Regions from separate parts of the Homo sapiens genome. Here region 1 is linked to region 2. The links come from fine-mapping of genetic effects on gene expression. Tissue or cell type: whole blood. Region 2 holds a variant in brackets; the other region holds the start of a gene. All regions are shown on one strand. Distances are from middle to middle.

Evidence for each region. PIP is the estimated chance that this variant, and not a neighbour inherited with it, causes the effect.
Region 1: it holds the start of DNAAF11, and the variant in region 2 is fine-mapped to the expression of DNAAF11 in whole blood (TOPMed, PIP above 0.99).

What each region holds. Positions count from the first base shown.
Region 1 is chr8:132,669,764-132,680,623 of GRCh38, reverse strand. It overlaps DNAAF11 (dynein axonemal assembly factor 11), which reads left to right and starts at 5,079. Exons shown (of 12, transcript NM_012472.6): 1 at 5,079-5,140. The coding sequence starts at 5,131. LOC105375767 (a long non-coding RNA gene) reads right to left here and starts at 4,994. Exons shown (of 2, transcript XR_928665.4): 1 at 4,819-4,994; 2 at 4,566-4,732.
Region 2 is chr8:132,705,339-132,716,198 of GRCh38, reverse strand. It overlaps TMEM71 (transmembrane protein 71), which reads left to right. Exons shown (of 10, transcript NM_001382403.1): 8 at 1,984-2,045; 9 at 2,147-2,204; 10 at 5,217-6,258. The coding sequence ends at 5,232. Among named protein-coding and RNA genes, the nearest start is that of DNAAF11, 35 kb to the right of the region's middle. The variant T/C (reference allele first, on the strand shown) is at 5,279.

The DNA.
Region 1 (10,860 bases), 36 kb after region 2:
GCAGCTTGGTTTACCTTTCATAAAGTTGCAATGTAGAAACTTTTCTGAAGAAAAATAAATGCAAAGTATGGTGGAATTCTAGTCACAATATTGGTTACATATCATAAAAAAATAAGAAATTATATAAGTTAAAATGAAAATAAAAAGAACTAAATTGCTTTCTAGGCAAATGTCCCTAGAATTTATCCAGCATAAAAGAAGTAGGAGGACTATTTTGCTGTTACTGGAATAAAAAAAAAGCACACACACTCTCTTTAAGATTTATTTTTTCTACTTGTATACACAAAATGTCACACCTGTTTTTTCAGGAAGCATAGCTCATCTTGCTATAGTTCCAGCAGCCAAAGAAATAAGTCTATTTGGAACAATGATTTGCATAAACAGACACACACCACAACTCTTTAAACTCTTTCATCCACTTTGAGTGAAATGAACTTGACTTTACTTAGAGCTGTCACATCGTGATTTCCCAGTTGTCCTCCCTGTCAGTGGACTGTGACAATCACAGCACATTGTACACATGTCCTTCATACCCCCTGGGTCCTCTGTTTCTAAGAAACACAGTGACTGTGATGTTGGGTTGAGGAAGGACACATCATAACCAGCCAGCCTGGCCTATGACAAACTGCAAAGAAGATATTGCTGATTTCCCTGCTTTATCATCCAAAGCTTTTCTCTGCTTGTATTATTCTGTTTTCATGCTGCTGATAAAGACATACCTGAGACTGGGCAATGTCCAAAAGAAAGAGGTTTAACTGGACTTACAGCTCCACGTGGCTGTGGAGGCCTCACAATCATGGCAGAAGGCAAGGAAGAGCAAGTCATGTCTTACGTGGATGTCAGCAGGCAAAGAGAAAAGCTTGTGCGGAGAAACTCCCACTTTTAAAACCATCTGGTCTTGTGAGATCCATTTACTATCACGAGAACAGAAAGGGAAAGACCCACCCCCTGGTTTAATTACCTCCCACCAGGTCCCTCCCACAACACGTGGGAATTATGGGCATTACAAGATGAGAATTGGGTGGGAACACAGAGCCAAACACTGCTCCACCAGAGTGTCAGGACAATCTGTCAAGACCTTGCCCCTGGAACCAGATCTTATCCTAGATTTTGGTGAAAAGGTCCCAAGAAAAAGAACAGTCCAATAACCAGAGAATGAGGTACACTTCCTGGTAAGCCTGCTAGATTCCTTTACAACAGGGACACCTCTGTGGTTGGTGATCCTACTGAAGTGACAAGATGTAGGCCTTACACCAAAGACAGCCAAGCTCTTGAAGAAATTGGCTCACTGACTCCTCCATTCAATCATTCAACAAATATTTACTGAGCACCCAATAAGTGTCAGGAATTTTGCGAGAGCTAGGATTCAGGGATGGAAACAAACAAACAACAATAACAAAATTCCCTCTCTGCCCTCGAGTAGCTCTCAGTCTAAAAAAATGATGCAGTATAGAATTAAGGTTTAGGCACAAAATTCTGATTCACTATGCTTTAGTAAAATAATATCACTGGGCTTCAGTTTCCTAATCTGTAATATATTCATGACAATATGACCTGCTTGAGGGTTACTGTGAGAATTGAGTTAGTAATTTCAAAGTACATGGGCAGTGTTGAGCGCACAGTGCTTAAAAGTATCTTAGAGATTTTTCTCCAGTAGAATGACAGCCCAATTGTTTATTCACTTATGAATGAATGAACAGAATACTTGAGTCCCACAGATATAAAATTTCACAGGAAAAATCCAAGGCACATGTCCTAGTCTGTTGTTACTTCTATAGTGAAATATCTAAGACTAAGTCATTTCTCAAGAATAAAAATTTATTTTTATTCTTATAAATTCTTATAAATATTAATAAATTATAAATTTATTTTTATATAAAAATTTATTTTTATTCTTGATAAAAGTCCAATATTGGAAGTTCAATATAAGGGCACTAGGCACCAGTCACGGTAGCTCACACCTGTAATCTCAGCACTTTAAGATGCCCAGGCGGGAGGATCTCTTGAGGCCAGGAGTTCAAGACCAGCCTGGGCAACACAGTGAGACCTTATCTCTATAAAAAAATCTAAAAAAATATTAGCCAGGCATGATGGTGCACACACATAGTCCCAAGGTTGAAGACTGAAACCTGGGAAACACTGGGAAGTGCTCTGGAGAACAAAGTTGAGGTTCCAGTTTTAAAGAAAAAAGGACTAATCAGGAAACGGGTGACTACGAAAGTTGCTTGTTAGGAATTCTCACTGGTTTACAGAAATAACATTGATTAGTTATTGGTTGTACATTGTTAAACTATAGGGAATGAGTTATGATGTCCAGTGTACAGCATTGTTAGGTTTATTTATAGCCATTGGTGGCAACACGCAGTCTAGGGTCCATACGGCAGGCAGCTTTGAAACGATTACTTAGCTTAAGGGGATGGGGGACTGGAACTTGACTGCTGTCACATTTCAGTGCCTCTCTGGGCCTGATAATTTAAAGGGTGCTCCCATTCCTCAGATAGAAAGTTTATTTTCTTTCTCATCACTCTTAAACTCTCAATCTTACTCTTGAACTCTCTAGTTGTCAAAGGGGCTGCTGTGGTTTGAATGTTTTTGTCCCCTCCAAAATTCATGTTGAAATTTAATCCCCAATGTAGCAGTATTAAGAGGCATAGCCTTAAGGAGGTGATTGAGTCACAGGGGCTCCACCCTCATGAATAGGATTAGATGCCCTTATAAAAGGGATTGCCAAATGGAGTTCACCCCTTTTCACCTTTTCTATCCCTTCTGTCATGTGAGGACAGAGGGCTCCTTTCCTCAGAAGAATGCAGCAATGAGGCACCATCTTGGAAGTGGAGACCAGGCTCTCATCAGGCACCCAACGCACCAGCACCCCGATTTTTTTAGACACAGAGTCTCACTATGTCGCCCAGGATGGAGTGCAGTGATCATGGCTCACTGCAGCCTCGAACTCCTGGGCTCAAGCAGTACTCCCACCTCAGCCTCCCAAGTAGCTGGGACTATATATATTAATTTTACCTCAGTTTCTTTTTTTAAGTCAACAGTGAGTAGGTCTGAGAGTGAGGATAGAAGCTTAGAGCCAACATGTCAAATACCTGGGTTGCAATTGCTCTTGAGAACTTTCTGCGGTTCTGGAGTGGCTCCCTTTGTCTCCTGATCCAGAGGCTGAGATCCTTTATTATTTTTTTTTAATTTTTATTAAGAGACATCGTTTCTTTGTGTCACCTAGGCTAGAGAGCAATGGCACAATCCTAGTTCACTGCAAGCTGAGATCCTTTATAGTAGGCCTGACCTCATGCTTTTGTCAGCTTAGAAACTAATCTTTCTGCCCAGTAGTAGCTTCCTTCTAGAAGCTAGATCCTTTTTAGCCTTGATGAACCCCTTGTTGTTAAAATGCACAATTCAAGCACAGGCGAATTTGCTAAACTTGCCTGCTGCTAATAGCATTTCATCTCCTTTGTGAGTAATCAGACATCAGTGCTCAGTGTCACGTGTCAGTGTCAGCGTGTCAGTGGCACGACCACAGATGTTTACCCATATTGTCATCATCATGTGGAAATAGAGAAGTTTCAGCTTTCAAAGGTGAAGTCATCTGTCTGATGCCACACAGTAATAAATCTGTGTATTTAATCTATGTTTCCAATGCCAGAGCTAATACTGTTCACCTCACACTAACCTGCTTTCAGAAAAATAATAGTGGATGTCAGGTAAGTTTATAGTTTGAGTGCCTTTTGGGAGGCCTCCTTGGAAATCCAAATATTCAGGGAAATAGTGCCTGAAATCCCACTCTTCCAGTTCAGTTCCTTTGGCCTGGCATTTAAGGCCCCCATTACCCCCGATCTAATCTCTCATTCTTACTGTTCGAAGATCCCTTCTATCTAGCTCTCTTTATTGCCAAACTGATGTTTCTGCTTCCCCCCATCACCTCACTCTGTTAGACTTTCCTGCCTCTCTGTCCAAGTTCATGACCTTGTCTCTACCTGGCAAACTCTAATAATTGCCAGCTGTAAATGCTTAACAGCTATTCGCTAGAAAAATTAATTTCTTTGCACTCAGCATTGCTCTAGGAATCTTCTTTTAAAATGCAAACATAATACACACATCAAGATAAGAAGCACGCACTCCATACTGTTTAAAACGACTGGGATGGGAGAAGGTTTTACCTTTTACATATTGCCCCCCTCCTTTTTCTGCAAATGGAGTAAAGAATAATAATTACTTTCATAATAATGGTACCTTTTAAAGATTCTTGGGAAGCTAACGCATTAAAGTGCTAACACTAAGATCTGAGGGTGAATGAGCTTGCTGATGTGCTTCCTAGTTTAGAATGGGAGAAGGCGCGTTGCACACTTTTGGAGAAGGGTCTGGGGAAACGTGAGGGGAGTGTGGGGCTGTAGGAGATATACTTCCTACATTTTACAATTAAGAGAGTGGAGAATAGGGAAATTGATGGAGGGGGTAATGGGTGGCGTTTCTGGAAAGCTTGTTAGCCGGAAACGAGTGTTGGAGAGTGACTTTAAAAAGCTGGAATATGACAACGACAACGAATCTTTATAGTGAGCCTGTTGTTTTCATAGTGTCTTTCATTCACTCAAATTATCTAATTAAAGCTTCACAGTGATCCTCTTAGGTTATTTCTCATCTTACAGATGTGCAAACTGAGGAGAAGGAAGTGTAAGGTCACGCCGCTGGTAGAGTTGGGGGCCAAATCCAGATCTGTTGGCTCTGGAAGCTGTAAATCAAACACAAAAAGGAAAAAGTCAAAGGCGGTCTGGAAGGCAAGCCTGGAAGGCACAGAAAAGAGAAGCGTCCTCATACTTTGTTCACTCTAAACCATTGATTCAGGGAGAGGGAAGCAGTCTGTGGCAAGTCGGAAGTGCGACGAGGACGAAGACTGGGTTTGGGTTGGGGAACCCCTGTCTGCTGAGCCCCTTCACTGCGGTCTCCTCTGCTTGCTCCGCGGAGCTCAGGAAACGCGGCTTGTTTTGGTCCCGCGCGGCCGCCGTAGAGTCCCCGTTGCCATGGCTCCTGAATTCCGACGGGGACGCGCTGAGGAGCAGGGGTGAAGGGTGAAAAGCGTCATTCGAGGTCCGGGTCCGGCTTGCGGGGTCAGCGAACTGGAGAGGCGCCATGGGCTGGAGTAAGCCCCCCTCCACCTTCCGTCCTCGATCGTTCCCCTTGTGGAAGTAGTCCCGGGTCTCGTGGGATCCTCGCCGCCCGCTCCCGCCCTGCGCTGTCGGTTCCCCCGCGCCTGGGCGGACCCTAACCCCACCCGGCCCTCCGCACCGCAGCCCCGGCTGCACCAGGTCCTCTGCAGACTGGCCGGACAGCCTGGCCTTTTCCAGCTCAGGTTCCTAATCTGTAAAATGGGCGGGGCCGTGGGAAGGGGAGGAAGAGGCAGAAAGGCACTGGACTCCAGGAAAGGGGTCGGGGAACGTGCAGGGGTTTTGGCGCCAGACACACCACGTTCCGGCCAAGTGGCTCCTTACTGGCTGTGAACGTGGGCCAGTCACTGTCTCCAAGCCGCAATCTTCGGACTCATTCCGGAAGGCAGTGTAGCCTAATGGTGGAGGGTTCCGACTCTGGAGCCAGGGTTGAAGTCCTCCCTCTTCCTGTGACTTTGAGCGAGTGACTTCACCCCTTGGGCCTCAGCTTCTTCATCTCCAAAATAATGGCAATCATACTACTGTTTTAGACACAGTAAGTGTTATAAACGTGTTTTTGTTTGTTTGTTTGAGACAAGAGTTTTGCTCTGTCGCCCAGGCTGGAGTGCAGCGGCGCGATCTCGGCCCACTGCAGCCTCCGCCTCCCGGGTTCAAGCAATTCTCCTGCCTCAGCCACCTGAGTAGCTGGGATTACAGCGTGCACCACCACGCCAGGCTAATTTTTGTATTCTTAGTAGAGACGGGGTTTTGCCATGTTGGCCAGGCTGGTCTCGAACTCCTGACCTCAGGTGATCCGCCCGCCTCGGCCTCTCAAAGTGCTGCGATTACAGGCGTGAGCCACTGCGCCCGGTAGTAAACGTGTTTCTTTAAGAATATACTAACAAACTGCAAGGTGATGCGGGTAAGTTATTTATATTGTATGAACCATTTTGATATCGACAACGTTTTTGAGCTCCCCATATGGCAGTTTTGTACAGCTCTACCTAATTGATCACTTATCATTGTAAAAATGTCATAATTAACTTTTTTTAAATCAAGAGACTGCTCCAGATGATGGGCTTTCTGCCCTGGAAGACCTGACAGCCTGCAAGTGGGAGAGGTGGGGGTCGGGGGGGAGTGATTTGTAAATGTTGAAACTCCTTTCCTAAATCAGCTACTGATATTTCTTCCTCTCTTCTCAGGGCTGTCTCCCCATCCCCTGGTCTCACCCTAGTTGGTTTTTTTCTTCTTCTCCTTCTCCTCCTCCTCCTTCTCCTCCTCCTTCTCCTCCTCCTCCTTCTCCTCCTCCTCCTTCTCCTTCTCCTCCTCCTCTTCCTCCTCCTTCTCCTCCTCCTCCTCCTCCTCCTGCTCCTCCTCCTCCTGCTCCTCCTCCTCCTGCTCCTCCTCCTCCTGCTCCTCCTCCTCCTGCTCCTTCTGCTCCTGCTCCTCCTGCTCCTTCTCCTCCTTCTCCTTCTCCTTCTTCTTCGCTTTTTTATGTCGGGAATTTTCCTTTGCCCTCTTTCTCTGAGTCGTGCCCACTTTGATTTGTTAAATCATTAACTTGTCAGACTTGCATCGGAGTGTCTACCTTGAATCAGGTATTGAATGCAGGATACAGTGAGGAAGGAGGCAGATGTGGGCCTACCCTCCTAGGGAGGGAGAAGACAAACAGAAGTATAGTGGTTACAGCCAGGAGAGAGAGGGGTGCCTGTGCCCTGAGGGTGTGGGTAGGGGACCTAACCCCAAGGTGGGTGGAGGCTTCTCTGAGGAAGCAGTGCTGTCTGGAAAGGAAACAGGAAAGCTCAGTGAATTGCCCAGAGGTGAGAAAGAGCAGGGCTTCTTGGTGGCTAATTGTCACTGACAGGAACTGGTGTGAGACAGAAAGAAGGAGTGGAGAGCAAAGAGATAAGGAAGGCCTGACAGGTAGGCAGGGATCCGCTCATACAGGTTTTGTACTTAGGATTTAGAAATTTATCAAAAGAGCCACAGAGAAACCAAAAGGTTTTGTTCATGGGCATAGCTTGGCCCTATAGGAGTTCGAGTGGGAGATAGTAGGCTGAACTGAGGTCGTGGCAACAGGACAGATGACAAGCACTCCTCCAATGAGTAGCTCTGATGTGCCAGGCTTGGTTAACATGCTTTACCTGCATTCTCTTGTTTGATCTTCCCAGCAGCCTTTTAAGGCAGGGAAGGATTACTGACATCTCTATTTCTTTGGTGAGGCACAGAGAGTAAATCACACAGTAACTATCAGGGCTGGGAACAGAACCCACGAAGATTTCCTCTGGGTCCTGCATTACACCGCACTGCCGCCCACAGGACTGAGGCGAGTGGACAGATTTGAAAGATGTGGGTGGAGAAAGTGGTCCTCTTTTGCTGTGCCACAAACCCTTTTTACATGTTCTCTCTCCCCCGTGCTTCCCAATAAATGGCCTTCTGCCTCTTGCTAACATCTCCTGACTGCTCCTGTGTGCCCTTTTTTCCGCTGCCTTTCCTGTATTTTCCAAAAAAAGACGCAGGGATGTCATTAGTACAGGTTTTAGAGAGACCGTGCTCGAGAGTTCATCTAGTGTACCTGTTCATTTTAGAGATGAGGAGGGGAACATTGATTCAGCCAGTGTCACATCCCGTCAGTCAGGAGAGACGTCGAACCTAGGATACGAGCTTCCCGGCTTTCGCGGCTCTTTCCACAATTCTCAACCTCCTTCAACTAAAGGAGAAATTTGGGCTCCTGAGAAAGGATGATAATAATAGCTCACTCACAGTTATTGAGCTGCTTATTGCCTTCTAGTCAGTGTTCTGAAAGTTTCTCTGTGTGTGTACTCATTGAATTCTCACAAAAATCTTTTGAGGTAGACACTAGTATCATCACCTCCATTTTGCAGATGAGGAATCTGGAGCACAAAGAGGTTAAGCAGCGTGCCCAGTGCCACACAGTAAGTGGTATATCTGGGATGGTAAGCAGAGCCCGCACTCTTGTGTATGTTTGCTATATTGTCTCTTAGGAGTAAGAGACAGTTTGGTGAGAAAAGGAGAGGTCATGGTGCAAATTCTCATGTAAAGTTGAAGAGACCACTATTTTTGATGTTTGTGTCTGCTCAGGAGGACCAATATTGAGCCTGGGGATGGTGGCAAGAGGAAAATGAATTAGTTCCTCTCTGTGCATTTAATCTGGTGTGTGTTGTGATTTAGAGAAGATCTAGTGTCTTTATTCTTAAATTTTATACTATTGAATGCATTTTGTATTACTGGGACACATTTGTCATCTATAGATCTTCTTTGGTGAAATGTCTTCAAATATTTTGCCCATTTTATACATTGATTTGTTTTCTTATCCTTGAGTTTTAAGAGTCTTCTATATATTCTGGATATAGGTCATCAGATACATGATTTGCAAGTATTTTCTCCCCACCTATGGCTTATATTTTCCTTCTCTTAATTATTTTGAAAGAGAAGATTTAAATTTTGAAGTTTAATTTATTATTTTATAGATCTTGCTTTTGATGTCATATCCAAGAAATCTTTGCTAAGTTTACATAGATTTTTCTCTTTTTTTTCCTAGAAATTTTATAATTTTTGGTTTTATGCTATTCCATCATTCATTTGACTCAATTTTTGTATATGATGTGAGATGTAGATTACATTGTTGTTGTGTGTGTTTTTTTTTTTAATATGGAAATCCAGTAGTACCAGCCCCACTTGTTGAGGACTATGCTCTCTCCATTGAATTGAACCTTTGGATAAACCAGTGGCTTGTATATGTGTGTTCTCGACTTTCTTTTCTGATTCATTGATTTATTTGTCTTCCTCTGTGCCAATTTCACACTGTCTTGATTACTGGAGCTTTGTAATAAGTAGTCTTGAAATCCAGTAGTGTTTTTCCTCTAAATTTTTTAATCTTTTAAAGTTGTATTCAGATCCTTTACATTTCTATATGAATTTCAGTAGTATCTTGTCAATTTGTACAAAAATAAGTCTGCTGGGATTTTGACCTGAATTGTGTTAAATCTGTAGCTCGATTTGGGGAGAATGAGTATCTTAACAATATTGAATCTTCTGACCCAAAAACAAGGGATATATCTCCATTTATTTAGATATTACAAAATGTCTACAATATTTTTGAAGTTTTCAATGGACAGACTTTGCACATATTTTTCTGATTTATCTCTAAGTACTTCATATTTTTGATGCCATTGTAAGTGTTGAGTATATAGAAGTATACTTGATTTTTTCATATAGATCTTATATTCTGCAATCTTTTCAAACTTTCTTATTCAATTAGCTTTTTATATGAATTCCATTTGATATTCTCTGTAGACAGTCATATCATCTGCAAATAGAAATAATTCTACTTCTCTACCACCTGGATGCCTTGTTTTTCCTTGCCTATTGCTAGAACCTTCAGTATAATGTTGAAGTGGTGAGAACAGATTTCCTGGCCTTTTTTTCTGATTCTTACGGGAAGAGTCTTTCTCTGCTCGATATAATGTTGATTATAGGTGTTTTGTGGATGCTCCTTGTCAAGTTGAGTTCCTTTTTATTTCTGGTTTTCCGAGTTGTTGTCTTTTTAAAATTGGGAATGGATGGTGGATTTTGTCAACTGCTGTTTTGTCTCTACTGACATTATCACTTTGTTAGTTTATTAATATTGTATGTTACTTGGATTTCTGAGCATTATATCAACCTCGTATACATTGGATAACTCCCCCCTTGGTTATAATGTATAATTTTTTTATTATGTTGTTGGATTTGATTTGCAAAATTTTTTTGCTTAGGATTTTTACATATGTGTTCATGAGGTACATGGATCTGTAGTTTTCTTTTCTTGTAATGCATTTGATTGGTTGTAATTCTGACCTTATAGAATATAATGGGAAGTATTATTTCCTCTTCAATTTTCTACAAGAGTTTGTGTATATGGGGTATTATTTTCCCTTAAGTTTTTGGTAGAATTAATCAAAGGAGACATCTGTGCCATAGTTTTATTTGTGGAAAGAAAGGTTTTTAACTACATATCCAGTAGATATAGGGCTGTTCAGCTCATCTATATATTCTTGAGTGAGCTTTTGTAATTTGTGTCTTTTAAGGGATTCACCCGTTTAATTGATGTTCTTGAATTTATTGGCATAAAGTTACCTATAATATCTGTAGAATACATATGATGTTACCTCTCTCACTCCTAATATTGGCAGTTTGTGTCTTCTCTCTTTTTTGCTGATAAGTCTGACTGAAAGTTTACCAATTTTATTTTCTTAAAGAGCCAGCTTTAATTTTTATTAATTTTTCTCTATTTTTTTCTGCTTTTCATTTCATTGATTTCTGTTATAATCTTCATTATTTACTTTCTTCTGCTTATTTTGGGTTTAATTTGTTCTTTTTCTAGATCCTTAAAGTGGAAGCCAATATTTGAGACCTTTCTTTATTCCTACTATAAGTATTTAATGCTATAAATTTACCTCTAAGTAATGTTTTAGCTGTATCCTGCAAATTTTGATATGTTGCTTTTCTGTGTAATTTTTTTTTTTTTTTTTTTTTTTTTGAGACGGAGTCTTGCTCTGTCACCCAGGCTGGAGTGCAGTGGCACGATCTCAGCTTACTGCAAGCTCTGCCTCCTGGGTTCACGCCATTCTCCTGCCTCAGCCTCCTTGTAATTTTTAACTCTGTTCAAAATACTTTCTAATTTTCCTTTTTATTTCCTTATGCCCAAATTTAAAAA
Region 2 (10,860 bases):
GCAGGAGCAGGCGCTTCCAAGCCTGCAGGCACAGGGGGGCTTCCAAGGCCCCCAAGAGTGCAGGGATGCCTGGGTTCAGAGCCATGGCTGAGCGGCTGCAGCTGCACCTGGGAGGGCGGGGCCCCCTCCAGTTCCGGGCTCCCTCCTGTTCTCGGCTCCCTCGGGCTCTGCGAAGCCCACAACCCTGGCCAGGCCTCCCCTGCTGCAGCTGGCGTCTTTGCAGCAGCCACTCCAGATGGGCTGCTGCTGCCATCGCTTATGGGACTTCAGTTTTTCCCACCATTTCTGTCTTCCCTTAATTTCTTGTTTTGTCAGAACAAATTATTTCTCTCACGGAATATTTTGCTTGTATATGATTAATACAGAAAACTATTCACCTCCTCTAAGAAAATATACTAACCCACAGCAATAACAAATGTGCTATTCTACAATTAGCTCATTCCTTTTTGTTGCTGAATCATATTCCATTGTATGGATGTACCACAGTTTGTTTATACATTCACCTATTGAAGGGTGTCTTGGTTGCTTCCAGTTTTTGACCACTTTGAATAAAGCTTCTACAAAGAATCATATGCAGATTTTTGTACAGACACAGAATTCACCTCAGTTGAATTAATACCAAGGGGTGCAACTGTTGGGTTATATGGTAAGTCTAAGTTTAAATTTGTAAGCAAGTGAAGCTGTTGGGTTATATGGTAAGTCTATGTTTAACTTTGTAAGCAAGGGCCAAACTATCTTCCAACTGTTTGCACACTTTTCATTCTTTTTTTTTTTTTTTTTTTTTTTTTTGAGACGGAGTCTTGCTCTGTCGCCCAGGCTGGAGTGCAGTGGCGTGACCTCGGCTCACTGCAAGCTCCGCCTCCCGGGTTCACGCCATTCTCCTGCCTCAGCCTTCCAAGTAGCTGGGACTACAGGCGCCCGCCACCACGCCCGGCTATTTTTTTTTTTGCATTTTTAGTGGAGACAGGGTTTCACCGTGTTAGCCAGGACGGTCTCAATCTCCTGACCTCGTGATCCGCCCGCCTCGGCCTCCCAAAGTGCTGGGATTACAGGCATGAGCACCGCGCCCTGCTGCACTCTTTTCATTCTTAACTGCAATGAATGAGAGTTTCTGTTGCTCTGCATCCTCCCAGCATTTTGTATTGCCAGTTGTTTGGGTTTTAGCCATTCTACTAGGTATGCAGTGATATCTCGCTGTTTTAATTTGCATTACTGTAATGAGGAATGATGTTGAACATCTGTTTTTATACTTATTGACATTTGTATATATTCTTTGGTGAAGTGTCTGTTCAGATCTTTTGCTCATTTTTTCAAGTGGGTTGCTTATTTTCTTATTATTGAATTTTGAGAGTTCTTTATATATTATGGATAGAAGTCCTTGATTAGATACATAATTTGCAAATATTTTCTCACAGACTGCGCCTTGTCTTTTCATTCTCTTAGCAGTGTCTTTCACAGTGCAGAAGTTTTACATTTTGATAAAGTCCAATTATTCCTTTCTCTTCTTTCATGGATTGTGCATTTGGTATTGCATTTTAAAACTCATTGCCAAATGCAAGGTCATATTGATATTCCCCCATGTTTTCTTCTAGAAGTTTTACAGTTTTACGATCTACATTTTTGGTCTATGACCCATTTTGAGTTAAATTTTGTGTAAGGTATGTTATACATGTGGAGGTTCATTTTTTTGCATGTAAATATCCAATTGTTTCAACACCATTGGTTGAAAAGACGGTATGTTCTCCTTTGAATGCTTCTGCGCCTCAATTAAAATCAGTTTACTCTATCTGCATAAGTCTACTTCTGGGCTGTCTACTCTCTTTCATTGATCTGTATGTCTGTCCATTTTCCAATACCACTGTCTTTATTACTGTAGTTTCATAGTAAACCTTGAAATCATAATTCTATAGTAAGTCTAAAAAAATCACACAGGTTGGAAATGCACAATTAGTATGCTAAATCAGAGCAATCTTGTTGTTTCAGATGGTTTATGGGAGAAATATTAGCCAGTGTCTTCACATGCTCATTGATGATAACTGTAGCTTGTAAGTAACTGTTTCCCAGATTACTGCAATGATGCCTGTATTTCATTCCAATTTTGGTCACTTTAAAATGATTTTAAAATATTTTCTCTGTTTCACTCAAGATGTGAAATCATTGTTTCTCAGCCTTGCCAGCTATTTCAAAACCACTGCCTGTGCTCGGTAAGTGTTGCCTGTGTCATCATTATTGTCTGGACCAAGGTGATCATAATTTGATATCTGAGAATGGTTTCTGCTGCATAGTAGATGGCAATGACAGGAAACATCCTGATCATTCGTCCTGAAGACTACTTTCTGTTACTGCTAAAATTTAATAGTATTATCATCCTGCCTCCTAAATTTTTACATCAAAATAATTGTTAAGCACAGGACTTAGAAAATAATTTGAAAGGCGATGTCATTTAAAATAATTTTTAAAGTGATTTTGTAGATTCATAGCACTACACTTTATAAATACCTCATCTGAAGAAACCTTTGTGTTAGACGTTCCCAAATAGCTGGCAAACTGCCCATGAAATGATCTCAGTTACAAACTGTGATTTCTGTGCCTTCTCTTATTCATTTAATGATCCCCTTGTGTGTTAACTGCCATGGTTCAGCATATTTCAAAGGGTTACTGGGGTCTGGTTGGGATGCCCATAGAATTTCAAACAGTCTGGATAGCACCATCCTATTGCACGATGGACTGTGTTAATTACCTTCACTTCAATATGGCTGCCAGAGGCAAACTCACATGGCTTGGAGACTGAGGTCTGTAATTCACCATGGCACTCTTACAAAATCTGCGCTAATTCTGAAATCACAATGGGGTTTAGTGAAAATTTATTTTGGTTAGGATTCTAGCCAATATTGACTTACTGACATTTTGAGTGATGCTTCCCATAATTTCTGGGTATTTCTGGTTTCTGGGGGTGCACATACAGCTAAGTTTTATTCAACCTGATATTTAGAAAATCGAATCTCTGGGTAGCTCAAGAAATCCTTATAATTTAGCCCTTGAAATTAATGACAAGGCTGGGTGTGGTGGCTCACACCTGTAATCTCAGCACTTTGGGAAGCTGAGGCAGGAGACTTCCTTGAGTCCAGGAGTTCTAGACCAGCCTGAGCAACATAGTGAGACCTACGAAAAATAGACAAAATTAGCTGGGTGTGCTGATGCGCACCTGCAGTTGCAGCTACTGGGGAGACTAAGATGGAGGAATTGCTTGAGCCTGGGAGGTGGAGGCTGCAGTGAGCTGTGATTGTGCCCATGCCACTGCACTTCAGCCTGGGCTACAGAGAGAGAATTTGTCTTAAAAACAAAAAGAAAAAGAAAAAAGAAAAAAGAAAAAGGAGTTAATGACATTTGTTTAAAACAATTATTGATTTCTAAAGTGGCACCACCTAAGTTACCAAATCTTTATTAAGAATTTACAATATGTTCTATACGGTATGGGGTACCAAGTTTAGCTCAGTTGCTGTTAATGAAGTGTCTACCATGGGTTAGACACAGTCACTAGGTACCAGGGTGTGAATGCCCCAGCATGTGGCTGGCTTTGAGATTTTATCATCTCATTAGAGTAAAGGACTTGTAAGGGGCAAGGTGAAGTTGCCTTTTAATATGGTAAGTGCAAATATCAGGTTAGTACAGGAGCCAGGGGGAGCACAAGGAGGTCAGTTTCCCAGACTAAGAGGAGTGGGGAGTATGTTCAGGGAGGGCCTCCTGGAAGAGCCAATATCCGATCTGCAGGGGTTATATCACCTGCTGTTTTCTCAGAACTTCCCATTGTTCTGAGCTCATTGTTTGTTCTCTCCCAAAAGAAATTACATCAGGACAATATTTCTATCCTGAACAAACACTTTTATCTTCTGACTCATTTATGGAAGGAGATCCTTTCTTTGATTATTTGTGTACATACTTTGACTTGTTCTTCTCTTGTTCCCAACTCCATTTTTTCCTGTTTCCTGCCCACCAGCCTCATATACACACACATTTGCATTTAAGACCTGTGAAAACAAGGACTATTGACTTCATTTTTGTATCTACAACCAAAGCCTTGAAAATAGTATGTACTCTGTACATATTCATTAAATTTAATGTATTTACTGCATCATTTCTTGAAGTACTTCCTTGAAAGCCAAGAGCTCTGCGTGTATATTAAAGATTTTGCAACCCTCTCCTTCTTATATAAACATACCGAGAAACTAATAAACCAAAGATATGGTTATTAATATCGAGAATCAAGAATGACTCATAAGTCTCCTCTAACAATCAATGATGAGAATCTAAGGAACTGAATTCAGTTCAACAAATATTAATGCAGCACCCTCCCCCCAACACACACACCCATCCTGCACTGTGCAAGTTAGATTAGATTAGGTGCCTCTTTAGCACCTCACACGGCTCACATCATATCCCTTTTCATAACATAATGAAATTCTTAGTCAACTGCTTTCCTGATTAAATTTAAAGCCTGTGAAGATAGGGACTATCTGTCTTGTCCACCACTGGCCTGAGTGTCCCTTGCAAATGAAGGTCAGCACAGGTATCTCATGTTAGTAATGATGTGTTAGCATCAGCGGTACACGTTTTGCACACTTATGATTTCATAGTAACAAAATGGGTCACATCTGTTCTCTCTTAAATGAAGGAATGTATGTTCGTATACTTAATGAATGAGTGAATAAACTTTAGGGAATAAAAATATGGGGAAAATCCACCTGTTACCCTACAGGCTGTTCTACGGGGCAGGAGAGAGCAATTTTCTGGAAGGTGTATTCTTTTGAGCCATTTTCTTTACCAAGTTTTTAATCTTCTTGAGGATCATGATTACCTTTCACTTAAAGTGCAATTAAAATACTGATATAATACAGAAAAATGCCATAAGGGCAGGTGGGAAGAGGAAACCATAGGAAATATTAGTTAACTAAGTACCACGCTGGGCTGAGGGGTCAAAACCTCTATAGTCTTTCAGACAAAAAGGAGAGCACTAAGAACTGCTGGGATAAAAGCAAAAACGAAAAGTACCCTTAGTTGAGGCTGCACTCTTCCTAGTTGTGATAATTCAGGCCCGTTGTGGGTATGGGTGTGGGTGTGTGCTTATATATGCGCAAATGGGTATGCAGTGATTAGATACTGCATTTCCTGTGCATGGGGATGAATTATGCATTTCTTTTCTTATTTCTCCAATCTAGGTTTGTCAAAATTTGACAACCATTTAGGAATGCCTTCGATGAATGTCCTCCATCTGAATATC[T/C]GGAAATTGTCCAACTTGCAGTCTACTTGGAATCAAGTGTTTTATTGGAAGGGAGTAAGCGAGTAATGGAGAAAAAGCCATTTTAGTTTGACTATGTGATTTTAAAATGATCTCAGTTTTTCCATCAAAATTATAATATGCTCATGAAAATAATATTAATTTGCCTTCCCTTTGCAAACACCGGCAGTTGAAAGGAAAAGGACGGGGAATGTGATGGAAAAGAGACCGCCTGGAATAAATGTCCCCCTATGATTCTTTAAGGCAGTGGTTCTCGAGCTTGAATTTTCATTAGGAAATTCTGTGAGGAGCTTGTAACCAGATTTCTGGGTCTGCCACATGCACCTATCTCTTGCTGAATTGCTTTAATAGAATAATGAGAGCAAGTTTGTCTAACTAATACCAACCTGACAACTTGAATAACAATAAATGCAATTTGTACATAAAATATAATGCTGCAAAAGTTTGTCATTCACCTCAGTGGAGTGACTTGATATTAGGTGGTAACCGTAGATGATGGTTAATATGAAAATGGACAGGAAAGAAGCATTTTCTGAAAGTTATATTCTTTTGAACCACGTTCTAAACCAAGTTTTTAATCTTCTTGGGGCTCGTAATTACCTTTCACTTTAATGTCACTTAAAGATATAACACAGAAAAATGCCTTGAGGGCAAAATATAGGCAAAACACCAATGCGCTTTCAAATGCATGAAAATGGTGCAGTTGTACCCTTGAGCCTTGACTCAAGGGCTGTAGATGTTCCCTTTCCACCCCCCACACTTGGTGCGTGTTCACAAAGCAAATATGGCCTGTAATTCAAATTTGTTCTATGTGATACTCTCTGAGTAAAAACTCATACATGCAGAAAATTGTCTTTGCTCGAAATGATAATGCCAAAATATAACTTTATATATAATTTGCATTTAGTACATTTTTGGTTAAAAAATAAACTAATAAATAAGTGAAGTCATCAGCAAATTTATATTTGTGTGTGTGTATATATATATGTATATATATATTTTTTTGAGAAATCATGGCAGAACATCATTCATTGAAGACTGTATTATTTCCCTATTGCTGCCTTAACAAATTACCCTAAACCAAGTGGCTTACGGCAACACAAAGTTATTGTTTTACAGTTCTGGAGCTCAGAAGTCTAAAATAAAGGTCAGCAGAGTTATTTTCCCTCTGGAGGCTTTAGGGAAAAATCTATTTCCTTGCCTTTTTTAGCTTCCAGTGGCTGTCTGTATTCCTTGGCTTGTGGCCCCCTCCTCCACCTCCAAAGCACACCACTCTGATTTCTTACTTCCATCATTACATCACCTTCTCCTCTTCTGCAGTAAAATCTCCCTCTACCTCCCTCTTTAAAGGACACTTGAGACTACATTTAGGATCCACTCTGATAATCCAAGATAAAATCTTTGACTTAATGACACCTTCAAGGCCCCTATTTTCATATAAGGTAACATTGATGGGTTCCTATGATTAGAACCTGGCTATTTTGGGGGACCATTAGTAAGCTTACCACAGTTGTATTTGAAATAGCCTCGTGTAATAATTTAGTAGGTCTGGGATATGTCCCATGCCTTTGCCATTTTTACAAGTAGGTTAAGTGATCACAAAGTGATCCACAATCCACGTGCATGAATGCTTTGAAGTGGGATTTAAAATGAATTTAATGGAGAACTAAATGCATATGGAGCCTTTCATTTAATACACTATTAGGAGAACTTCCATTGAGAATTTCTACATTTCCTTTGTCTATGTGTAACACACATTTTTCTACAGAGTCATTTGATTTAAATGATAATGTTTTTCAAAGTAAGATACTGAAATAGTACTAACTGTTTACGTGCATATAATGCTTCATTGTTGACAAGGACATTTTCTCCCCGGCTGTATAAGCTTACTATGGCTACAGTAACAAGTTACCACAGATTTGGTGGCTTAAAACAATGCAAATTTATTATCTTACAGTTTTGGGGGTCAGTCCAAAATGAGCCTTACAAGGGTAAAACCTAGAGACTGCTTGCATTCCCTGGCCCCTGGCCCCCTCCTCCATCTTCAAACCACTTCACTCTAGCCTCTGCTTCTGTGGTCACATCTCCTTTTCTGACTTTAGACATCTTGCCTCCTTCTTTAAATAATTTTTGTAATTACATGGGGCCCACCCAGATAATCCAGAATAATCTTTCCATTTTAAAATCCTTAACTTCATCCCATTTACAAAGTCCTTTTGCCACATAAGGTAATCTAGTCATAGGTTCCAGAGTTCTGGAATGCAGATATCTTCCAGGACCCAATGGCTAAGGCCTTCCCCAGTGAAAGCTTCAGATGAGAGGCCGGTGCAGGACAACACCTTCTTTACAACCTTGCAGAGGACGCAGTTAAAGACCTCTGCAGAAACTGAGATTAATGTGTGTTCTAAGCTGCTAAGCTTGTGCTAATGTCATTACATGGTGATAGATAATGAACACAACATCCACTGATTCTCCTCCAAGTGTATAAAGTGTGTTGCTGTGCAAAATGACTTTAGGACATGTCCCCTAGCAGTGGGCTCCAGCCAGATGGTTGCTCTTGAGCCCCACTACTTGGAGTGGAGAGTATAACCTTAATATCCTGCAGATCCATCTGTGACAGAGGTGCACAGGACCTGACTAGTGATGTGTGTGCTGCCAGGAAGACTTGTACATCACTGGATGTCAGCTCTCTGCCAATGGCCAGCCTCAATCCTCTTCAGGTCCTATTTGTTATTGTAGTCTAGCAGCGGGCAATATTGTTATAAAGAACCACGTCTGCTGTACACAAAAGATTCTCAGTGATCTGGAATGCACTCCTTGGGAATTTGTAACTTTGCTGAATTTAATAGTCATCATCATAATATGATTTCATGTATATATTTGATTTTATAGTTTCATTTATTAATACATTCAGTAAATATATATTTAGTCCAACCATGTGCCAAGAGCCAGTCTAGCCCCTGGGAGTATGACGGTGAAGAATACAGACGAGGTTCCTGTACTTATTAAATGTCATGTTTATGTAGGCACCATTCATTCTGTGAAATAGGCAGAACAGCTGTTTTTAAAAACTTGTATTGTTCAAATACGAGAAAAACAGAAAATAGTGTAAAAATTATTATAAGGCAAATGCCTTGTTTTAGTCTGTTTTGTGTTGCTGTACCAGAATATCACAGACTGTGTACTTTATTTTTAAAAAGAAACATATTTCTCACAGTTCTGGCAGCTGTGAAACCCAGTATCAAGGTGCTGGCATCTGGCAAGAGCCTTCTTGCTGCATCATCTCATGGCTGAAGGTGAGAAGATGAGAGAAGGCCAAAGGGAGGAAAGGGGCCAAACTCATCTGTCTATCAGGAACCTACTCCCGAGATAACTAATCTATTCTCACAATAATAACATTAATTCATTCATGAGGGCTGAGCCCTCATGACCTAATCCCCTCTTTAAGGTCCCATGTCTCAACACTGTTGCACTGGGGATTAAGTTTCCAACATATGAAATTTTCAGGTCACATTCAAACCATAGCATGCCCTTTTAAGAACCGAAGAATAAAAAGAGACGAAATCTTGCTAGCTGTATCAGGAGCCCTCCAGCTGCCCCTTCCAACATCCTCACCTTCAGAATAACCACTATGGCTGAGTTTATGATAATCACCTCTGCATCTTGCTTTATAGTTTTTATTACCAATTACGTTTCTAAATACTATAGTATAGCTCTGCCTGGTTTTATTTGTTTGTTTAATATGCCTATTGGGTCTCTTTGAATGCATAAGTTCTTCCTCCCTGACCTTTGAAATTTGTTTCTTTGAAAACTGCATCATTTGTCTTGTAGACTTTACTCCATTGGAATTTTGCTGATCGCATGTCTGTGGTAAAGTTTAATGTCTTCCTTAGTCTTCTGTATTTCTTGCCAACTGAAAGTTGATTACAGAGGCTTAATCGTTTTTTGTTTTGAATTTTGTGGGGAACAATTACTTCCTAGGTGGTGTCATATTCTTTGTCAAGAGTGACATTATGTCATTTTGTGTTGTCAGCAGCCATTTCTGATCAGTGGTTAGATATCTAATTAATTAGAGATTGAAAAGGATGATATTCCAGTTTGATCACATCTTCTTTATTGGGAATATATCTGTGCAAGGAAACATCTACCGTCTGATTGCCCAGTGGTTCAGATTTTATAGGAAAGGAGAGATGAATGCTTGAGTCTTTTCCTGTATTTGCTAATTTTCAAAACAAAAAGTTTATTTCTTAATATCTTTTAAAGGTGGCCAGGATGCTATGTATAATCAGCATTTATATATATGAAGGAACCATGTTTAATATATAAAATTTCCCAAAAGGCACACCCTCCAACTTCCAAACTCTATATACTTTGTACCTCATCAAGATGCTAAAAAGATTGAGAAAGTAAATTAAAGTATGGGAGATATATAGATAATAACTCAACTTTAAAAATTTAACCACCATTTATTTTTTGAGAGCCTACTACCTGTAAGAACTGAGTCAGGTACAGATGTTTTAAAATATGGTGCCTGCCCTCAACAAACTTGCTCTCTAATAGGGGAAACAGGGCATTGCATGAAACAAGAAGGGTAAGACCATGGGGCCAATACTGATGGAAGATGCTAAAGGACTGTAGAGGATTTCCACTCACCCACTGTCATAGCTCAGACTGCTATAAGAAAATACTGTAGATTCAGTGTCTTACCCAACAAACATGTATTTTTTTTCAGAATTCTAAAGGCTGCAAAGTTCAAGATTGAGGTGCCAGCTGATTTGGTGTCTGGTGAGGGCTCACTTCCTGGTTTGCAGATGGCTGTCTTCTTGTTTCAGCTTCACATGTTGGAAAGAAAGATCCAGTGTCTCCTCCTCTTTTTATAAGAGAACAAACCCCATTCATGGAGGACCCATTATCATAACCAGATCATTTTCCAAAGTCCCCACCTCCAAATACCATAACATTGGGGATTAGAGCTTCAACATATGAATCTTATAGGGACAAAAACATTCAGTACATAATACTCAGTTACCAAAAATGTATGCCTAATAAATTTTAGAGATTCAATACTTCTGAATTGAACATCACTGTTTTGACTTACAGGTCTTTTAACGCCTTTTACTAGAGATATTATTTTGCTGCTCTAAAAAGTATAAATGGTTTGTAGTTGTTCTAGCTCATTCATCCATGAGTTCAATCAATCCAATCAATCATTATTATAATTGATCACCTGATAATTACCTGGCACTTCTTAGGAACCAAGGATTTTTTAAGTGAAGGAAATACAATTCTACTCTCAAGGAGCAGATGTCATAGCAGACTGGGAACCAGCTAAGCATGTAATTACAAGTGTCAAATATACTCTAGAGCCAAAAAATGCATTTCTTTGAAAACATTTACAAGGTCAGATTCTCTGGTAATTTAGATGAATTCTTCCTTTGGGTTAATGGGAATTATGGTATTGTCTTCTCTTTTTGAGAGCAGAGAGGGATGAGACATGAAGGGAGAACCAAAGTATCAGAAACAGGTAGTGAGGAGAAGAAAATAAAAGAAATGATTACAGTGGC